Homo sapiens: one gene and its partner. The protein of the gene in region 2 interacts with the protein of the main gene of each other region in a pairwise test. Each region holds a gene or a part of one and is shown on either strand. Other genes may lie near its edges.

The links. The genes of interacting proteins can lie anywhere in the genome.
Region 1: the proteins of MYO10 (region 2) and PELI2 interact in a two-hybrid assay, tested with the Homo sapiens proteins (one study listed by BioGRID).

Annotation. Positions count from the first base shown.
Region 1 is NC_000014.9:56,123,989-56,129,274, forward strand, and holds part of PELI2 (E3 ubiquitin-protein ligase pellino homolog 2), read left to right. Parts: intron 1-5,286. UniProt on the Homo sapiens protein: E3 ubiquitin ligase catalyzing the covalent attachment of ubiquitin moieties onto substrate proteins. Involved in the TLR and IL-1 signaling pathways via interaction with the complex containing IRAK kinases and TRAF6.
Region 2 is NC_000005.10:16,694,114-16,699,399, reverse strand, and holds part of MYO10 (unconventional myosin-X), read left to right. Parts: intron 1-4,785; coding exon 4,786-5,029; intron 5,030-5,286. UniProt on the Homo sapiens protein: Myosins are actin-based motor molecules with ATPase activity. Unconventional myosins serve in intracellular movements. MYO10 binds to actin filaments and actin bundles and functions as a plus end-directed motor.

The DNA of each region.
Region 1 (5,286 bases), on a different chromosome or scaffold from region 2:
AAAATAACTGTGAAAAGGAATTTATAATGTCTTTTGATTTAATTAAACGTTTCTCCTGGGGTGTGCAGAAATCTATTTTATAAAAAGAAAAGTAAAGGTTAGAATAATTCAGTTATTAGTTCTTACTGAGCTTATTGTCACCTTCATCTTCTGGAAAATAAAATAATAAGAGCAGAAAGTGCTTCATATTTCTTAGCTTTGTCTAAATCACCTGTTCTCAACCACTGTCTCAAGTACCTCATATGTGATGATCAGTCTTGAGGGTATGTGGCCAGTAATTTATGACAAGTAATAAAGTGTGGATCTTTCAAATGATTCAGATATGTCATGTTAATAATGTCATTTTTCACCCTTTTGCATTCTGATGTGTTTTCTCAAGTGGGAGAGAAAGGGGTGGAGTTACATCAGGCAAGCCAGGAATGTATGCATTCAGCAAATATTTATTGGCTGTCTACTCTTCCAGGCATGAGGAATACAGCTAGGACAAGGCAGACACATTCCTTTTCCTGGTGAACTGCTCTCTTATTTTTGTCCCAGCCTCTTTGTGAATAACCGTTACTGATACATGGTTCATTTATTTATTCCCCAAATATTTGAGCATCTGCCACTTGTCAGATGCTGTGGATTGCACTAAGGGATACGCAGATGAACAAGACAGTCATGGTCCCTGCTGCTGCAGCACTGACAGCCTAGCTGGAAGACCTGAAGGCTGGGATGGTGGATGTGTTAGCAGGGTCCCCTAGCCATGTGCCAGGATGAGATGGGGATGACCACGATGGAGATAAGAGGGAAGGAGTGCTTTCCGAAGAAGGTTTGGAGTATTCTGCAACCTAGAGATGAAAACGTGCAGCTACTTTGAGGAACAGAGAAACACTCTTTATGGCTAGGAAAGAATGATTGAATGAAACATTGTGAGGGATGATGATGGGGGGATATCATGAAGGGCTTATAAGATATTGGAAGGGGTTTGGACTTTACCCTAAGAGCACAGGAGACTGTCTCAGGGTTTTGCTAGTATGAGATGGGAGTGAAGAAAGCCCTCTGCTCTTTGCAGAGTGGAGTTGGAAGGCACAGTGGAGTTGGAAGGAGAAACTGAGGCTGCAGCCCAACAAGGCAGAGAGAGAATGGAGTGTGAGCTAGAGGGCAGCTGTCTTGCTTCTAGTTCCTGGTTCGGGTACCTCCTGAGACCTAGTTTCGTGTGATTGACCATTCATTCAGTGACTCAAGATACTGACTGAGGACCAGCACTGCTCCCAGCCCTGGGCTACACCAGCAAACAAGACAGACAGCTGCCCTTCCTGCCTGCTTGGAGCTTACCTTTTTTTGAGAGAGGTGAGCAAGCAAAGGAGTAGATAAAAAATGGAACTTCAGAGACTGCTGGGAGGAAACTAAAGCAGGATAAGGAGGAAGAGAGTTATTGGGTGGGCAGGGGGGGGGTGAATTGGCAGGGTGAAATGCTAGGGATAAGGTAGTGGGGGATCCTTTTGGACAAAATAATCAGGAAAAGCTTTTCCGAGAAAATAGTCCTGTGTCCTTTGAGAGTCCCCACTTCTTTCGGTTTTTACTTACTTTTTTTTCTGTTTAAGCCACCTTGAGTGGGTTCTGCTCTTTCAATCAGAAGATTCCAAGTATCCCGTTAAGAGGCAACGTATATAAGCAATTTACTGAAGGGAAAAATAGAAGTGTAAACAAATACAAGGGCAGATAGTTAAGTATCCCTGGACAAAAACGTGGTTCTGCCCTCTGTGCTGCTTGCCATGTGCCCAGAGTGGCCATTGAATTCCACCAGAGCGTATTGCCCCTTGAGGGTAGGAACCTTGACTTCCCCCCTCCTTGGAATGCTGGGCTTCCCTTTCTGGTGCATGTTAGGTACTCACTGAGCCTCTTGGAGAAATGGATTTCTGTGGCACACCCTAGTTTGCCACCCCACATGGAGATGTGGCCAGGGCTTAGTGAATGTTTCTGGACTTGGAAGGAGCACTCTGCTTCTGTAGCACAACTGCAGTTTTGTAAACAATCCTACCAACCTTTAGGGCCCAAGTCAAAGTTTCCCTGAGAAACTAAACATGTGCTTTACTGACATCAGATATTCCAGTTTCAACTTTTGTTTGTTTTTCTTTTTGTCAGTCACCTAGCAGTCATGTTGTCACCTGCAGAAAGTCCTGCCTTGAAGGGAAGCAGGCCATCTGTTCTGATTCCACCAGCTGCTCGGAGCTGCATTGCAGTGCGCCACAGTGGCGTTGAAAGGCTGTGGTCATTAATGCCTATTAATGATGGCTGGAAATACTGTGGCATACAAGCCTCTTGGATGACAGACCTAATAAATATGCATCAGGGGGCATTTTCAGCAGCAGGTTTAAGGCTATTGCGAGTCATTCTCGATTGAGGTTTTCTTTCTAGCCATCCGCATAATGCTTCTCACTCTCAAACACTTCACTCTGCTTATCCCTGCTTTTCTGCTCATGCAGAATCTGTTTTTAGGATAAGAAATCATTGTTTCAAGCTTTGTACTTCCATTCTTATTAGTACTGGTTTAACAGAATTTAACCAGAGCGAGCAGTTGTGTGTTTGGCTTCTAGGCTATTGGTATAAAACGGCTGATCGTGATTACCAAGTGCCTCGGAGGACCTCGGTGGCCCCCCTCCTTTCCCATCTTGTGCTTCCTGCTCCATGATTATAGAACACTAATTATAATCAGAACTGGTGATGGGTGAGCAATTAGGCTTTTCTGGACTGATGATTGATTGATGGATTGATTGATTGATTGCGTTGGGGAAAGGCCCTTCCTGCGGAAGGATTGTAGACACAAAGGAGTGTGCTTTCACACCAGATCCCAGAAAATTATGCTGACTAGATCCTTGATGTAGTACATAAGATTACATTATGGTTTGGGTACTTTCATCACATGCTGTGGATAGAATTCAAAATGCAACCTGACAAGACTGATAGGAAATAAATTCATTAAGTTTTTATTGAGTTGTTTTTTGTCTCCTCGGGTTGTTGATCATTCTAGTGAGCACAATTTCAGCCTTTTTGATGAGTTATTCCAAACATTAAGTACTGTACGGTTTGAAAATCTTAGCTAACAAAAGCATTTTTGGAGTGGCTTTATAATTTATAAGTCATCTGCAAGTCTTTTTGCATTTGTTAATCTCCAATATTATCTGAAATTTGTTGAGAGCGTGGCAGTTGAAGAATAGCCTAGCTTACTGAGAACCATGCTTCTGGCAGACTGGAACATAAGCAGCTTTCACCCAGGAGAGCTAATGCATGACACAGATTTTCAAGCTTTTAAAGGTCACCTGACATGAAATAACAGAACTAACAGAGATTCGAGTAGGTGGGGTAATCTATACAAGCATCCTGCAGGTACAGGATGGTGGAAGGACCAGAAGAATGTTTTAACACTGCATTTGGGTGGTTAAAGGACAGGATGAAGAGCTCATTTATATTGGTTGTACCTGTCTGTGACTGTCGGCAGTAAGAAGGTAGTACAGTTCCTGAAATACTTTATGTCTCCTCCACACCATGGAGAACAGTTCTGTGTTGGTGAGAAGCAAGCCAAGGCAGAAGATGGCTCTTGTGTGGTGCAGTTTACAAAAGAGAGACAAAATTTGATAGCAGCCACTGCTGCCAGCCACCTGCACAGCACTCAGGGTTGGGAGAGCTACAGGCCTAGAATCCACTGGTTACTGCCTCCAGATTGAACACTTTGCCATAGAAAGAAAATGAAAACATTCCTCTAGTAGCTAAAGTGAACGTAACTTCTGAAATTTCCCCAGATTCTGTTTGGGGAATTTTAGCATTTTTCATTTCTAATGAGAGGGACTAAAAGATGTGAAATCAAAACTTTTGCATTCAAAATTGATCAACTGAGTGTAAAAGAAATTTAAATAATTGAACTTCCAGATGATGTTAAGTCTGTTGCTTTTATAATTTTGTTGTTTTTAAAGCTTAAAATTACACTAAGAATTTTGAGATGCATGTGTGTATGTATATATTTTATTGCATGTGTGTTCTGCATGGGTATATTAAAAATGGGATTCATTGATCCTGCACATGGACCCCTGAACTTTAAGATGAAGAAAAAAAAATGGGATTGCCTGTACATACTAGGAATTAAGCACTATCTAAACATACACACTAAACACTGATCATTCAGTTTGTGTTAGGTGATGCTGTTGTTGCTGTTTTACGAGGCTGATTTCACTTCAGAGGACTAGGGGTGGTGGAGCCTACATAAGGAAATGCCCCCCAGGGGTACACAGTCTAAGGGCAAGACAGATGACTTAGCAACAAATCATTAATTAGGGTGTAGCGGGATGGTGGGCGAGAGCTCTGGGCATACTATATGCCAGGTTCCGTTAGGTGGTTTACATTATCCTTTCCAGGAGTTCAAATTTATTATCTGGGCAATGAGGCTCCAGCTTAATGACTTGTCCAAGCTCACTCCCCTAGTTAGTGGGAATCTGATTAGAAGGTAGGTCCTTGTGGCTCTCTTGCTTGATTATTTCCACCAGGGTGAAGGTGAGAGGCATGTGTATTGCTGGGAGATTGGGAAAGATTTCCTGGGGCAGTTGGCCTTTAGCAGAGCCTTGAGAGGTGACCTGGGTTTTTTATAGAGCAGTGGTAGTAAAAGCATGGCGATTTTGGAACCTTGAGGGGTATGGCTGGAGGCTGAAGTACTTGGGGAGGGAGGTGAAGTTGGAAAGTCAGGTTGGGGTATTGTTGGGGTATTGAAATATTTGGGCTAGGGTTATAGTAGGTAATCTCAGAGTGGTCCCTGCCTTCATGGAGCTTACAGTCCATCAAGAAGGAAGCCCTTTAAGCAAACCTGGCAAGGTGCTGCCAAGGAGAAGTACAGGGTTTCGTGTACAGTAGGGGACAAAATTTGTTTTTGGGGGAGGGCAGGTTTTTGTGGGGAGGGAGGGAATTCTATGTCAGCAGAGGTAGAAAGGGTGAGTTAGCTAAGGGTTAGCAAGGGGAAAGCAGAGTACCTGAAGGCACATCGAGAGGTTGAGGGGCTGAGAGGCTGAGGGATATCCAGTGCCTTTGGAATTGAAGGGGTGAGAGGGCCTTTGTGATGAGAGAGACTTGAAAGGAAGGACCTGGGCCCAGTAAAGGCTGTGGCCTCTGGGAGGGGGAAGCCCTGCTAATAACATTTCAAGGCATTATTGCAGACTCTAGGTAGCAGGCAGTGTCAGCCTTCTGAGTAGGTTAGTGAACTAATCCTTAGGACCCAGTCTTGCTTGAAATCTCCAAATAGGCTTGTTTTCCCTTTTGTAA
Region 2 (5,286 bases):
ATTTTATCCGGGCTGATGGATGGCGGTGGGAAATAACGGAGGTGTTATTGTATCTGGGCTGATGGATGGGGACTGGGAAAGTCGTTCTACCTACCCTTACCTCAGTGTTGGGCCACTTAGATGAATGAAGGGACACCTTGTCATGTTGGTGTGACATGGGTGCTGTGGTCCTACCAGCATGAACACAGTCGTGACTCCCCTGGTTTGGTGCAGAGTGGCAGGACGAAGCATTTGCAACCACTGCCTCCAGTATCAGTCCTTCTCCCCTGTCTCTCCCTGTCTCGTTTTCCTTTCTTAGCTCTTTCTTCATCCTTCTATTTTCTCTCCCTCTCTCTCCCACTTTCTCTTTCACTGTCTCCCTCTCTGTCTCAGTCTCATTGCTCTCTCTCATATATACAGACATACAAACCAATGTGTGTGTTGCTGCTGCTGCTGGAATTGGTCGAGACCCATTCTCATGATAAACTGCATGTTCTCGGCCGGGCGTGGTGGCTCACGCCTGTAATCCCAGCACTTTGGGAGGCCGAGGCGGGTGGATCATGAGGTCAGGAGATCGAGACCATCCTGGCTAACACAGTGAAACGCCGTCTCTACTAAAAATACAAAAAATTAGCCGGGAGCGGTGGCGGGCTCCTGTAGTGCCAGCTACCTGAGAGGCTGAGGCAGGAGAATGGCGTGAACCCAGGAGGCGGAGCTTGCAGTGAGCCGAGATCGCGCCACTGCACCCCAGCCTGGGCGACAGAGCCAGACGCTGTCTCAAAAAAAAAAAAAAAAAACTGCATGTTCTCTCCTGCCAGGGATATTAGAGAGCCTAAAAGGATGTGCTAGACATGGGGGAAAGTGAAGATCTCACTGAGGCCCACTGCTGGCTTGAACTGCTCACCATACCTACTTCATGATGAGCATTTGCATTGTATGCTTTGATTGTTACTAACATTTGAGTATACTTTGCTGAACCTTAACACTTAGGGGCCTTGAGGCACACTCCTTTTGGAAAATTATTTACTATTTATTTATCTATTTATTTAGGTATTTATTTAAGACAGGGTCTTGCTCTGTTACCCAAGCTAGAGGGCAGTGGTGTGGTCATGGCTCACTGCAGCCTTGAACTCAGGTTCAAGCCATCTTCCTGCCGCAGCCTTCATAGGAGCTAGGACTGCAGGCGCACACCATCATGCCAGGCTAATTTTTTATAGAGATGGAATCTCACTATGTTGCCCAGGCTGGTCTCCAACTCTTGGCCTCAAGCAGTCCTCCCACCTTGGCCTCCCAAAGTGCAGGAATTGCAGGCATGAGCCACCATGCCTAGCCAGAAAATTATTTAATTATTTAATTGGGACCTCATATTTATGCTTTGTTCCTGTTCTTGACTCTGACTCGTAACTCAGTGACAGGGATAATAAGAAACCATAATCATCACCAATTTTGGGCAGGAGTTTTACGTGGATGGTTAAAAAGAAGGGACCGTCCTGTTTCTCGCATGGACCTAGACTGGAGAGGGGAGAGAGTCGAGAAGGTGGAGATGGGCAGGGATATGAGAACCTTCCTCCCCAGGTCTCCTCTTCCTGCTTTCTCCCATATTTGATTTTTAAATTTGTCTTCTTCCTTTTTCTTCACTTTCCTTTTTATTGCCGTCTTTCTTCATTTACATTTACATTTTCTTTTTTTTGTCTTCACCACCATGAAAACCTTTTTTTTTTTTGAGACAGGATCTTGCTCTGTTGCCCAGGCTGGAGTGCAATGGCACAGTCGTGGCTCACTGCAGCCTCCACCCCCGGGGTTCAAGTGATTCTCCTGCCTTAGCCTCCTGAGTAGCTGGGATTACAGGCACACGCCAATGCCCAGCTAATTTTTGTATTTTTAGTAGAGACAGGGTTTCACCATGTCGGCCAGGCTGGTCTCGAACTCCTAACCTTGTGATCTGCCCTCCTTGGCCTCCCAAAGTGCTGGGATTACAGGAGTGAGCCACCGCGCCCAGCCATGAAAACCCTTTTATTCCATTTTCCCTTCTTTCTTTCTGTGCTTCTCTTTTCTGTTAGCTTCTTTACGTTTTTTTCCACGTCTTTTCTTTTGTTATCTTCAATATTTTTTTTCTGTTTTCTTCACTTGTGGCTTTGTTTGCTGGATTCCTTTTTTGCTTCACCTGCTCCTCTTAGAAAACATGGGTCTAGTGACGACTGTCAGTCATTTGCCTTTCAGAGTTCTGCCATCCTCAGCTTTGGAGCCCCACAGTGCTCATGAAACCCCTAGAAGGTTTGGTTTAGGGGAGACTTTTAGTAGGACTGTTGGAATGAAAAACATCAAGGGTGAGGTAGCCAGCACTGGAACACCTGACAAAGGAAAAAATGTCATTGCAAATCAGAACCTTTGATCCAATAAGTATTTAATCATAGCATCTTAAGATTTTCTCAGTTAGAAATCATCTTAACTGTTTTTACTAATATATAATTCCCATTCCTCAATTTTTAATTCCCTAAGTTAATTTGAAAATTCTCTTCAATATTCCTCTTAATGTATGACATTGATTTTTTTTTTTTTTTTTTTGAGACAGAGTCTCGCTCTGTCACCCAGGCTGGAGTGCAGTGGTGCGAACTCGGCTCACCACAACTGCCGCCTCCCAAGTTTGAGCTATTCTTCTGGCTCAGCCTCCTGAGTAGCTGGGATTACAGGCGTGCGCCACCACGCCTGACTAATTTTTGTATTTTGAGTAGAGACGGGGTTTCACCATGTTGGCCAGGCTGGTCTTGAACTCTTGACCTTGTGATCCACCCGCCTCAGCCTCCCAAAGTGCTGGGATTACAGGCGTGAGACACCACGCCCGGCAGCATTGATTTATTATACAGTTACTGGATTAAAACCAGTAAGAGTAGGAAAAAAGTAAAGACACATTCAAAGTATTAAAATCAGGGTCAAAGAAGTTAAATGGGTGAGTTTTCGGCATCTCTTAAAGCTATTGTGTAAATGCAGCCTCATTTAATACTTAATAAAACTTTAATTAAAGCAGAGCCAAAAAGTTTCAGAGCAACGAATGAATGAAAAAGAAAATCTAATCACCAATTTATATTTTATGGGCATAAATAAATTTTTACAACCAAATAACCTACTAAAGATGTTTGCAATTAGGAAATTATAGCATTAAGTGATTCTCTAAATGATGAATTATCAAGAGAGGGCCTGAAATTGCAAAGGGAGGGCCAAGAGTGAGTGCTATCAATAAATAAATAAATAAATCTAATTAATCAATTAGATTAAATAAACTAATGGTGAGAGCTGTCGTGATGACTCTTCTAATCTTTGAAACAACTGTGAATAAGCTTTATCATTTAACAACAACAAGATAATAGAATAATTTTGCACAGTTTTCCTCCAGGCTTGTTTTGAGAAACCCAGATTAAAGTCACAAATCAAAACACTAATAATGTTTCATTCTGGTAGCCGTTGGCAAGTTTGCCATATGTTAGGACACGGCTCTGCAGCTTGGCACAATTACCAAAGATGTCTCAGCTAGATGAGCAGGGGCCTCTTGGACAAAAGGAGGGAGAGGAGTCTAGAAAGTTCAGTGAAGCAAGTGCACTGTCTGGTTTTCACACAGTGAACGCATAAAAGGATAGGATTATACTTACTTTAAATATCCCATGTTTAAATGACCCTTATTTTCATTACTGGTTGGTCAAAAGAAAATAATGTGTGGACAGTCTTATAATAACAGATGTGTGTCAGATGTTGATCTTGAGCAGGTTGGGGAATCTGGAATACAAAATTATCCTCCCTGAAGAGCATAGCAAGATTTTTTTATCCTATGAAAGATAACATCTGTATATTTAAGTTCAAATCTTAGTGTAGTTTGTACTCTTGCTTTCTTTTTTTTTTTTTCATAGTCTCAGTCTTATACCTGTAAACCATTTTCAGATGATGCTTTTCTTTGAAAAGATGTTTTTCTCCAAAAAGCCATATTGTCTTTACCTGTGTAAGTTAGACTTTATCAGTCAACCCTGGAATCACTGATAATTCTTGTTCGCACATTGACCAAATATGGAAGGAAATGGGTAAACTTTGTTTATTTTTTGAGACGGAGTCTCACTCTGTCACCCAGGCTGGAGTCTAGTGGTACAATCTCTGCTCACTGCAACCTCCTCCTCCCGGATTCAAGCGATTGTCCTACCCCAGCCTCCCAAGTAGCTGGGATTACAGGCACGCACCACCATACCCGGCTAATTTTTGTATTTTTAGTAGAGACAGGGTTTTACCGTGTTGGCCAGGCTGGTCTTGAACTCCTGACCTCAAGTGATCCACCCGCCTCGGCCTCCCAAAGTGCTGGGATTACAGGCATGAGCCACCGCTCCTGGCCCAAAAAACGGGTAAAGAAACTGGTAAACTTTGACACCATGTTAAAATAATTTTCCCTCTCTGGTGCATTTTGGGATAAGCCTGATCCATACATAGGGACATGGTTCTCACCCTTGGCTTTTGACTCATTCCTGGGTTAGAGTGTCAGTTCATTACTTGCTTTTCTATTGGCTCCTTTCAAAGCTTTCTCAGCTAAGTGAGCAGGAACTCCTTTGGATAGAAGGATTCTTGTATAATCCAGCCTGGCTGGTGTGACATCTGTGTGGTGCCCCCAGACATGAGCTAGCAGTGCCACTCCTCACTGAGGGGTCTCTGCGGTGCTGCGGCTGGGGCAGAGTCTAAGCTCGGCTAGACCTTAACACCTGCTATGCATGTTGTTGTCATCCAACTTGACTGACTTTTCTTTCACCCCTCTCTACCCAATCTCACGGGGAACAGGTGGCCTGATGAACTCTTGGAAACGCCGCTGGTGCGTCCTCAAGGATGAAACCTTCTTGTGGTTCCGCTCCAAGCAGGAGGCCCTCAAGCAAGGCTGGCTCCACAAAAAAGGGGGGGGCTCCTCCACGCTGTCCAGGAGAAATTGGAAGAAGCGCTGGTTTGTCCTCCGCCAGTCCAAGCTGATGTACTTTGAAAACGACAGCGAGGAGAAGCTCAAGGGCACCGTAGAAGTGCGAACGGCAAAGTAGGTTGCTAAGCCTGGCTGTGGCCCGATGGGTTGCTCATGGTTTATGCTGGTGGTCATAGAGCCATGCTGTGCAAGTTCCTTGCAGCGGCAGTAGCCTGTAGCAGGTGTCCTGATAGTTCAGTTCAGTAGGTTAAATTACTAGGAAACTGGGAAGCAAGACTTAATCCATGAGTACTTTGCTTTTTGTGATTACACTCAGACATGTGGCTGTCATTTGGAAGATGGCCAGCCAATTGGATCTGGAAGTTGCCTGG